Regions from separate parts of the Homo sapiens genome. Here region 1 is linked to region 2. The links come from fine-mapping of genetic effects on gene expression. A gene starts in region 2. The other region holds a variant in brackets. All regions are shown on one strand. Distances are between the middles of the regions.

The links.
Region 1: its variant is fine-mapped to the expression of HES1 in whole blood (INTERVAL, PIP 0.98).

The regions. Positions count from the first base shown.
Region 1 is chr3:194,109,070-194,114,439 of GRCh38, reverse strand. All of the region lies in intron 5 of LOC102724877, which reads right to left. Among named protein-coding and RNA genes, the nearest start is that of HES1, 24 kb to the left of the region's middle. The variant G/A (reference allele first, on the strand shown) is at 2,647.
Region 2 is chr3:194,133,274-194,138,643 of GRCh38, reverse strand. HES1 (hes family bHLH transcription factor 1) reads right to left here and starts at 2,496. Exons shown (of 4, transcript NM_005524.4): 1 at 2,156-2,496; 2 at 1,932-2,027; 3 at 1,596-1,683; 4 at 1-961. The coding sequence starts at 2,263. The coding sequence ends at 411. RefSeq lists enhancers at 383-572, 2,370-2,529, 1,339-2,538 and silencers at 603-802, 3,529-4,068, 4,139-4,418.

The sequences.
Region 1 (5,370 bases), 24 kb after region 2:
CACCTCCAGATTCTCAGCATTGACGTTATTTGGAAATAGGGCCATAGCAGATGTAATTAATAAAGATGAGGTCATAATGGAATAGGGTGGGTCCTTAATCCAGTATGAGTGGTGTCATAAAAATAGATGAGACACAGAGACAGAAACACTCAAGGTGAGAACTCCACGTGACGATGGAGGCAGAAGTTGGAGTGATATAGCTGCTGGCCGAAGAATGCCGTGAATTGCTGGCAACCACCAGAGACTAGGAAGAGGCAAGGAAGGAGTTTCCCTTACAGGGTTCGGAGGAAGCATGGTCCTGCTGACTCCTTGATTTTAGACTGCTGGCCTCCAGAACTGTGACACAATACATTAATACATTTTTGGTCTTTTTTTTTTTTTTTTTTTAGACCGAGTCTCGCTCTGTCGCCCAGGCTGGAGTGCAATGCCTCGATCTCAGCTCACTGCAACCTCCGCCTGCCGGCTTCAAGCAATTCTCCTGCCTTAGCCCCCTAAGTGGCTGGGATTACTGGCACCCACCACTACACCCGGCTAATTTTTGTATTTTTAGTAAAGACGAGTTTTCTCTATGCTGGCCAGGTTGTTCTCGAACTCTCGACCTGAGATGATCCACCCACCTCGGCCTCCCAAAGTGCTGGGATTACAGGCCTGAGCCACCGTGCCTGGCCCATTCTTGGTCTTTTAAGCCACCAAATTTACGGTACTTTGTTATGGCAGCCCCCCCGGGAAACTAATAGATCACTCCACCTCCAATATTATGCTTAAAAACAAAATCTAAAGGTTGGGTGCAGTGCCTCACACCTGTAATCCCAGCACTTTGGGAGGCCGAGGTGAGCGGATTGCTTGAGCTCAGGAGTTGGAGATCAGCATGAGCAACACGGCGAAACCCTGTCTCTATGAAAAATACAAAAAATTAGCCAGGTGTACCGGTGCACACTTACAGTCCCGGCTACTTGGGGGGCTGAGGCAGGAGGATCGCTTGAGCCTGGGAGGTCGAGGCTGCAGTGAGCTGAGATGGCACCACTGCACTCCAGCCTGGATGACAAGGTGAGACTCTGTTTCTAAATAAATAAATACGTAAAAAAAAAAAAAAAAAAACCTACAACCCCCGTTTCCTTTAACTTCTATGAAATGTTCAAAGGAAAGTAGGCTTGGCTTGAACTTACATTTTTGAAATGTTAACTACAGTCTTTCATTAAAATATTTCATGTTCTTAAAGCTGTGAAATCTTTGCACATGGGGTCCTATGTGTGGTATATATTGGGTAGTAAAATAAACAAGTTAATAAATAATCTCCCTCCTCAACAAACAGAAAAAAAGTTCCCCCAATTCCCTTCTTTCCCAGTCTTTTGAAAAGTAAATTTGCTGTGAACTGGCTGCTTCATTCATCTGAGTTTGACCACGTGTTCAGTCTGAGGGTGTTTCACTTTCCTCTCTAGGAGCAGGGCATGATTGGATTAAATGGGATGCAGAATCATTTTTCACCTCTGCAGAAATGATCCCACTTGCCCCTGAATATCTTTCTTGCATTTTCTTTCATCTACCCATCTTCCTAGAGACAGGTTTCCAGTTCTGGCTTCTCCTCCGGTGCCCTTAATCAAACCCACAGTTTGGCAGACGAAGCACAGCCCCTCCTTCTCCATCCCCATGGAGATCCAGGAATTTGTAGGAGTCGCCTCATTTCTGGTTATTCAATAACCGGCAGGGCATCGAATGTCAGGGCTAAGAAAACAAACCTGCCTACCTGTTGGACTGAATGACCTCATAGCCTGAGCTGTTCTCATGGTGTTGGCTTGCACTGTCTGTCAGCGACTCTTTCATCACAAGCCCGACTGACATCATACTGTTCTAAACACCTAACCTGATCATTGTCACTGTGCTTACAACACAGCCAAAGACAGCAGTTAAGGCTCTGATTAAGCCTGGGGGCAGTCTTGCATGAGGAAGTAAGGGGTCTTTTTTTTTTTTTTTTTTCCCAGCCTTAAGAATGGAGGATGTGAATGGGGAAGGAATGAAGGGGCTTATTGTGTTTTAATTCCAAATTTGTCCTTAACCTCCCTACCTGGATTTCCAGCCCAAGGCTTCACTCAGTACTCGGTGGAGAAGAGCAAACCATCTGCCCACATCTGACCTGGCTGACCAGGGCTTTCCTGCAGGGGAGGGAAGATTCTAGCACCATTCCACTTGTGGATGTCTCTGATTGGAAAATGATCTTCTCTGAGCTTTAGTGAATAACCTGAGGGCCTCCATTAGATTGTATTTGTGGGCCACTTTTCATCACTGGATTCCCAGGCAATGACTGTGAAAGATTCCCACAAAACAATAGAATGGATGCAAAATAATCCTATTATTTATTTATTTATTCATTTTTCAGACAGAGTTTTGCTCTTGTTGCCCAGGCTGGAGTGCAGTGGTGTGATCTCAGCTCACTGCAACCTCCGCCTTGTGGGTCCAAGCAATTCTCCTGCCTCAGCCTCCCAAGTAGCTGGGATTACAGGCGCCGGCCACCAAGCCTGCCAAATTTTTGTATTTTAAGTAGAGACAGGGTTTCACCATGTTGGCAAGGCTGGTCTTGAACTCCTGACTTCAGGTGATCCACCTGCCTCAGCCTCCCAAAGTGCTGGGATTACAGGCGTGAGCCACCGC[G/A]CCAGGCCTGGAAAATGATCTTGAAAGCAAGTCATAGCTTCCTCAAGTTAGAGTTGGAAGGATTAGGGAGATACTAAAAGGGAAGTTAATTATTCTATGTGATATAAATTCATTCATTTGCTCACTCATTCATTCACCTATTCATTCATGAAATCAATATTTTCTGAATGCCTGCCGTAGGCCATGTACTGTGTGATGCACTCAGGAAACAAAGACAAAGTCACAGGTCAGTGACATTCATGTGACTTGTATCCAGGAAGAAGCCTGTCCAGATGGCCGAGAGGGCCATGAGGAAGAAGAAAGCTCAAGGAGTGGCTGGGGAAGCAGGGAGGAGAGTTTTGGCCTAAGACTAGAATATTGATTTTCAAAGCATAGGCCCTCGGCACTGGACATCACAGTGATCGGGGAAGTATCTCAGTCAGCTTTGGCTGCCTTAATAAAATACCTTCACAGCAGGAATTGATCGTCTCCCAATTCTGGAGGCTGAATGCCCAAGAGCAAGGTGCTAGCAGGGTCCGTGTCTGTTTGGTGAGGGCGCTTCCTGGCTTGCAGATAGCTGTCTTCTGGCTGTGTCTTGTTATGGCCTTTCCTGGGTACTTGAGAGTAGAGAGAGCTCTCTGGCATGTCTTCTTATGAGGGCACTAATCCCATCCATCATGGGGCTCCCTTCCTCACGACCTCATCTAAACATAATGACCTCCCAAAGGCCCCATCTTCAAATGCCATCACATTAGGGGTGAGGGCTTCAATATATGAATTTTGGGGTGAAACAATTCAGTCCATAGCAGGGAGTTGGTTAAAAGGCAGATTCCAAACTTCCACCCTAAACCTACTGAATCCGTGTTTCTGGAACAGGTCCTGGAAATCTCCGTGTTGATTGTTAGGTATGCTAATGTTGGAGAATGTCCTCTTTAGGATGATTTAGGCTGTTACATAGAAAAGGATGTTTCCAGGGAGAGCTGGAGCTGGTGAATGCACACATGAACGAGGAACGTTGGCCTTGGGGCGAGGCCCAGCGTTCCGTATATTTGTGAATTTATTTATAACTGAGGCTTTGGCTGACGTAGAGCTGAGCAAAGGATAGGCTCGGATGTAGTTTTGCAAAATGTCAAGATAGAGCCATAATCCTACCACTGCAATTTGTCTCAAGAATTTAAGGACTCTCTCTTTTCCCTTCCCTTCCCTTCCGTACCCTTCCCTCCCCTTCCCTTCCCTCCCCTTCCCTTCCCTTCCGTTCCCTTCCCTTCCCTTCCCTTCCCTTCCCCTTCCCTTCCCTTCCTTCCTTGCTTTCTTGCTTTCTGATTTTACCTGCTTTTTCTAAGGAAGTCAGCTTGTATAAGGAGATTTAAAGACAGGCATGCAATTCTGAGGGATCACTGGGGTGAATTATTTGTTACCTGTTGTTGCTCATTTACCTGATCGGGGAGATTAACATTCTCCTTTGAGGTTTCTTTTCCTTTTAGGAACTGCTGTGGCTCTTGCCAAAGTCTCCAGGTAACCTTCTGCTGGGGAGAGAAAACCTCCACCAGTCTCCAACTATACTTGGCTCTCAATAAGAAAGCAAGAGGGCCAGGCACAGTGGCTCACACCTAGCTCTTTGGGAGGCCGAGGTAGGAGGATTGCTTGAAGCTAGGAGTTTGAGACCAATCTGAGCAACAAAATGAGATCTCTGTCTCTCTCAATAAATAAATAAATAAATAAATAAATAAATAAATAAATAAATATAAATTAACTAGTCGTGGTGGTACACACCTGTAGTTGCAGCTATTCCAGAGGTTGTGATGAGAGGATCACTTAAGTCCAGGATGTCGAGGCTGCAGTGAGCCATAATCCTACCACTGCACTCCAGCCTGGGCTGTTTTGCTCAGTGACTAATTACAGTTGGAGGAAATCAATCCTGAAAATTGGGGTGCCTTTGCCATCCACTTATCGCTTCAACATAAAATTTTTGAGTGCCTTCCATGGCATGGTGTGAGTTGCTGTGGTTAGTTAGGTGAATAAGACAGACACAGCCCCTGTCTTCATGACATTTATAATCTACAGGTGAAAAGAAACAAGTAAACGATGGATTGCAATGAAGCGTGGTGAGAGTTATGTTAATTCTCCTGTGGTTCCTTCTTCATGCCTTCAGAGACTGAACCTAGCTCAGGGCTGGATGGCTCATTGGTACTCAAAATATCCTTGTCCTGCATTCCTTTTTTGTTTGTTTGCAAACATTTGCTGAACCCCTATGAAATGTCATGTTGAATAGATATGTCCTGGGCTCTGCTTATAACCTTAGAGGCAGATTTTTTAAATTGAACAACATGCAAAACCTTGTTGCAGAGAGCTCAGAGTCAAGTGAGGAAGTCAGACAAATAAACAAATGGCATCAGGGCTATGCTAATGACTCAGATAATACAGCAGTGGTCTGTACCAGGCCATAAGGGAATGTGGGAGTGGAGAAAGGGGTACAGGGGGGATGATTTCTGCTGGAGAAAGGAGCAAGGGCCAAGTGGCCCAGCAGGGATCCCTGAAGGTAGAGAGTGCAGGCTGGACTTGAAGCATATTAAGAGGGTTTGAATTCTTTCAGCACTTCCCAGCCAATAGGTTAAATGATAACTAATTCAATCATTCATTGAATTGTTCAGTAGCTATATATTGAGTACCTATGATTTCCTTAGTGAGCCAGCTATACAAATCATTGGATTAACCACTCAACCCAGCAACTAGCTAGCTGGCCCC
Region 2 (5,370 bases):
TACATATTCTGGAAGAATCAGTTCGAAGACATAAAAGCCTTTACTTTTTTCTTTTATTATATTTTCTCAAATAAACTTCCCCAAAGGAAGATATTTTAAGAGCATTTTCAAACATCTTTGGCATCACATAAAAAAGAAATCTCGTGTAAAAAACGAAATGTCATCTGAGCTTTTATAATACAAAGGCGCAATCCAATATGAACATATAAAATATATACAAATATAGTGCATGGTCAGTCACTTAATACAGCTCTCTCTACAAAAAGTAACTTCTTAGAAATTAAAAAAACACAAAGTAACCACTTAATCAAAAAAGTCCTCTTCTCTCCCAGTATTCAAGTTCCTGTTTAGAGTCCGGAGGGAAGAGAGGTGGGTTGGGGAGTTTAGGAGGAGGGGTGGCCTGAGCCCCCTCAGTTCCGCCACGGCCTCCACATGGAGTCCGCCGTAAGCGAGGGGCCGCTGGAAGGTGACACTGCGTTGGGGCCCACGGAGGTGCCGCTGTTGCTGGTGTAGACGGGGATGACAGGGCCGCTGTGCGCGAAGGCCCCGTTGGGAATGAGGAAAGCAAACTGGCCATCGGGAGCCGGTACCACCTGGAAGCCTCCAAACACCTTAGCCGCCTCTCCAGCCTGGCTGCCCAGCTTGCAGGGGGCGCCGCCGGGAGGGGGCGCCGCGCCCCCGGGGATGGGCACGAGTGGCGGCGGCGGCGCGAACGGCGCGTGCTGGGGGCCGCCGGGTCCCGGTGGGGGCGGTGGCGGCGCCTGCAAGGCGGGGTGCGGCTGCCCGGGGTAGGTCATGGCATTGATCTGGGTCATGCAGTTGGCCAGGTGGCCGAGCAGCCGAGTGCGCACCTCGGTATTAACGCCCTCGCACGTGGACAGGAAGCGGGTCACCTCGTTCATGCACTCGCTGAAGCCGGCTCGGTACTTCCCCAGCACACTTGGGTCTGTGCTCAGCGCAGCTGCGGGCCAGAAAGAGACAGACGGGTCACCGAACGGCCCTGGCCCCGTGGCCACTGCCTCCGCCCTGGGAGGTCCCTGTGGCGCGCCTCCCTGACCATGCGCCCGTGAAACTGCCTCCGGCAGGGAGGGTGAGATGGGTTTAGAAAAAACCAGCCACCTCTCCACACTAGCGTTGCTGCCAAAAGCCGAGCCACTCCTTCCCGATTCCCTGTAGCTGCATTTAAACCTATCTCAGCCCCAGATCTGTCACCCCCACCCCCGCGCGCGATGTGACCTTGGACAATGCCTCCCAATCCATCATCCAAGCCTCATTTCCCCTTCTGCAACGGGAAGGAGTGCTAAACCAGTGACCCCCAGGCTCCACGCAGTTCCAAACCGCCACAGTCCTAAGTCCTTTCGCCCCTACCCGGCGCCCGCCACCCTCGCGGCTGCAACCTCTTTCCCTCCCTTTCCGGAACAGTAACAACTTGGAGTTGTGGCTATAAATAAGCCCCAGACCGTGGGAACGCAAGAGTGAGCCAAGGCAGTAAAATGTAGCTGAATGCCTCTCACAACCACGGGCGGAAGTCTGGAAGAAATCACCGCGAGGCGAGCGGGACGCCCGCACAGGGGGACGCGGCGAGCCGCCCTCACCCGTCATCTGCGCCCGCTGCAGGTTCCGGAGGTGCTTCACTGTCATTTCCAGAATGTCCGCCTTCTCCAGCTTGGAATGCCGCGAGCTCTGCATAGAGTAGGCAAGAAAGGAAAGTGAGCCCCGTGTCAGCTGCTTCAGAGTGCTGGGGGTCCCTCCTCCCGGCCACGGAGCGCAAGCATTATCTCTGGACCCCAGCGAATAAGGCCGGGCCCTCCCGCCTGGGAGAACGCAGTACCAGCGAGTGCCAGACCCCGCAGGGCGGGGGGTTTCACTCTTAGTAGCTGAGAAAGTGTTTGTTTTTTAATTAAAAGAGCGAGCAGCATTTCCCCACTTACATCTTTCTTCAGAGCATCCAAAATCAGTGTTTTCAGCTGGCTCAGACTTTCATTTATTCTTGCTCTTCGTCTTTTCTCCATAATAGGCTTTGATGACTGCAAATAAAAAAAAGAGTTCTGTGTTCCCATGGAATCTGCCATCCCGGGGTTTCAAGACAGAAAGAAGCCCCCCAACCCCTACTTAATTTTGAGGGGCTGCAAAGAGATACAGGTACCGCCCTTACCTTTCTGTGCTCAGATGCTGTCTTTGGTTTATCCGGTGTCGTGTTGACACTGGCTGGGGTAGCAGCCACCGGGGACGAGGAATTTTTCTCCATTATATCAGCTGGCATTTTCCTTTTTTTTTTTTTTTTATCTCTAGAGAATTTTATTTTTGGAGTTCTTCACGAAAAAGAATTTTTTGTTTGTGTCTCTTTTACTTGAGACTTTCACAAAACTACTGAGCAAGTGCTGAGGGTTTATTATATTTTGTGGCTACTTGGTGATCAGTAGCGCTGTTCCAGGACCAAGGAGAGAGGTAGACGGGGGATTCCGCTGTTATCAGCACCAGCTCCGGATCCTGTGTGATCCCTAGGCCCTGGCGGCCTCTATATATATCTGGGACTGCACGCGAACGGCTCGTGTGAAACTTCCCAAACTTTCTTTCCCACAGTAACTTTCAGCCAATGGGAGGAGGAGACACGCGGCACCGCTCGTGGACCGCGCCCCCCCATTGGCCGCCAGGCACAAGGTCTGGCGGCCAATGGCGCGCGCCTGAGCCCAGGGCACCGGAGGCTACAACGTCAATCAAAAGGATTTTAACCCTTTGCTACTCTCCCTCTGGGCTTTGGTTTAGAGATTTTTTTTTTCTTTCCGCTTTGGTCTTGATCTTGTCTATTTCTTTTGGAGCCAGGGTCTTTGCTCTTTATGCCCTCTCTCATATGTAACAGAGCTGCTTTGACTGTAGTAAGTTCATTTGAAACATATTTTTTTTAAAGGTATAAACAATAAAGAAAAAAACAGCAGTGGTTAAAAGGGGGCGGGGGGAGGGGGGGACGGGTGTAAGAATGTGAGTTACCGACACATCTAAAGTTCCCGCTCAGACTTTACATTCAGGAGGGTGAAAGTAGATGGTAAAGGAAAAGGGCCAAAAAAATTTTCCTGTTTCCATGCAGAAAAAGGAAAAATTGCCTTCTACCTCACAAATGCAGGTTTTTCGGAGCAAGGTAGTTCTTGAATCCCACCCCCACCCCGTCTTTCAGAAATTCCTCGTTTGGATTTGGGGCCTTAGACCCCGGGCTTCCCCAGGAAACAATCAGAATAATTTCCAACTGGGTGGAAGGAAACGGTATTTCAAATGAAAAAATGAACAAGGGGGGCTCCGAGGGCAATGACTCAGGGACTCGCGCCCTCCTTCACCACCCTTTCCCTTTTCATCCGTAGGCTTTAGGTTCTGCGGCGCGTTGAGGTGGCGGGCAAGGAAGCAGCCTCTCCCTCCTCGCCCCGCGGGCGGCCTCGGCCCCCGGCGCCCGCGGGCCCTTTAAGAGCTACACCAGCCGAGCTGCAGTTTGACATCAGCCGGCCGGCGTGGGCGCGCCTGGAGCCGGAGCACGTGCCAGGATGTTTTATTGCCGCCGCGGCTGCGGCCGGGCCGGGAGGATGTGTGTGTGCGTGCGTGTGTGAGTGAGTGTGTGTGCGCGCGCCCCGGGGGCAGGGAGGCGGGGGGCGGCGACGGGCGGCGGAGAGCGGGGGCCGGTTCCTGGTCCCCGGGAGAAGCCAAGAAGGTAAATAGCAGCTGCTGTGCTCGAGCCTGGGAAAACCCCGCCCCCTGCGCCTGGCCCGGGCTCATTGGCGCGCGCTGCGTGTGGGGGGTGTGTGTGTGTGTGTGTCCGGGGCCCCCTCCTCCGGCCCCGCCGGGCCAGGAATCCGAGGGGGCGGCGGGCTGGGAGCCGAGCCCCGGCGCTTACCCTCTCTCCCCACCCCCGCCTCCCCAGGCCAAGGTCAGCTCTTCCCGGCGGGGAGCGCACACCCGGGGTGGAGAGTGGGGAATTCTTCCAACCCCCGCCTCCCCACCCTCACTTTCGGGCTTGGGGTTTTCACTCGGCCGAAAGCCGCATTCGCAACAGCCCGGGGGCGAGGTGGGGGCCTCCAAGTTTGCTCCTCGCCCCCGCCCTCTCCCCGCGGGGCCCTGGGCGCCCGCCGCGGTCACGGGATGCCTGACCGCACTTAGGAAGCGGCCGGGTCAGCCTCCTGCCTCCGCTCGGCGACTGCGGTTAAAGCGGCTTCGCGCCGCCCGCCCCTTCCCCGGGTCCCGGGCGGCCGGGCCGCTCCCCCTCACTACGCCCGGGAGGCCGCCGGCGGGCGCCCGGGAGGAGGCGGGCGGCGCGGGCGGCTGCGTGCTGCCTGCTGGCCGGGCCGCGCGCCGGGAGGAGTCGCCGCCGCCGCCGCCGGGTGCCACGTGGCGGGCGCCGGGCCGGGAGCGCCAGGGCTCTGGCGGCGGCCTCCCTGGGGGATTTGCCGAGCCGGGCGGGCGGCGCGCACTGCCTGGGCCGGCCGGCCGCCTCCTCCGCCTCCCTCCCGCCTGCCCGGGTCGCCGGCCCCCGTGCCCCCACCCCCCCTCCGCCCTTCCCGCCGCCTGGGAGCTCGGCTCGCGGCTCCGGGCAGCCCGGGAGCCCAGCGTCTTGTTTGATGTGGCCTCCCGCCCCCTCAGCCCTTCCCGCGTCCCGGAGGCCTGGCGCACGGTTCTCAGACACTTCATTCCTTCCGGCCTCCCAGCTCCCCACTGAGATAACGTTGTCAATGATTTCGCCAGATCTCGTCCCGGATGAGATTCAGTGGTTCCTGACTCTGGGTGACCTTGGGCAAGCCCCCCTCTCTCTTTCATTGTGGAACACACGCGCAGTGTCAGACACTGTGTTAAACCCTGGGATTTCCACGGTGAGAGATACAGTGGCGGCCTGCTAGAAGTTGACAGTAAACTGCGGGGGCAGACAGACGCTGATTTTCTGATTGATGACTGGACATTCCTTTATTTTTCCTTTCTTTTCTGAGTTAGGTGGTGGCTTGAGAGATCAGGAGGACAGAAACAAAATATGAAACCATACTTGTATGGATAACAGTATTGCTGGTCTACCTGGGTTTACAGCAGTGAGTAAGACCGTTATTGCTCTCTGGAAGCTAACAGTCTAGAGATACATATAAACGTGTACAGCTGACATCTACGGATGGCCCAGTAAATTCCTCTGGGAAGTCGTAGGTTCAAGAGAGACGTATGTCTGGATAGAGGTAAAATGCTATGGAGTTTCAGGAGAATTAAGTTACTTTTAAGTTGGGGTACCTTGGAAAACTTCCTGGAGGGATTGGCCTGTGTACCTTGAAAAATAGGTAGGATTGGGGCATTGGGAATGTGCTTAGTCGTGGGCTGGAGAGGATGCAGGTACCCATGGTATTAAAGGCCAAG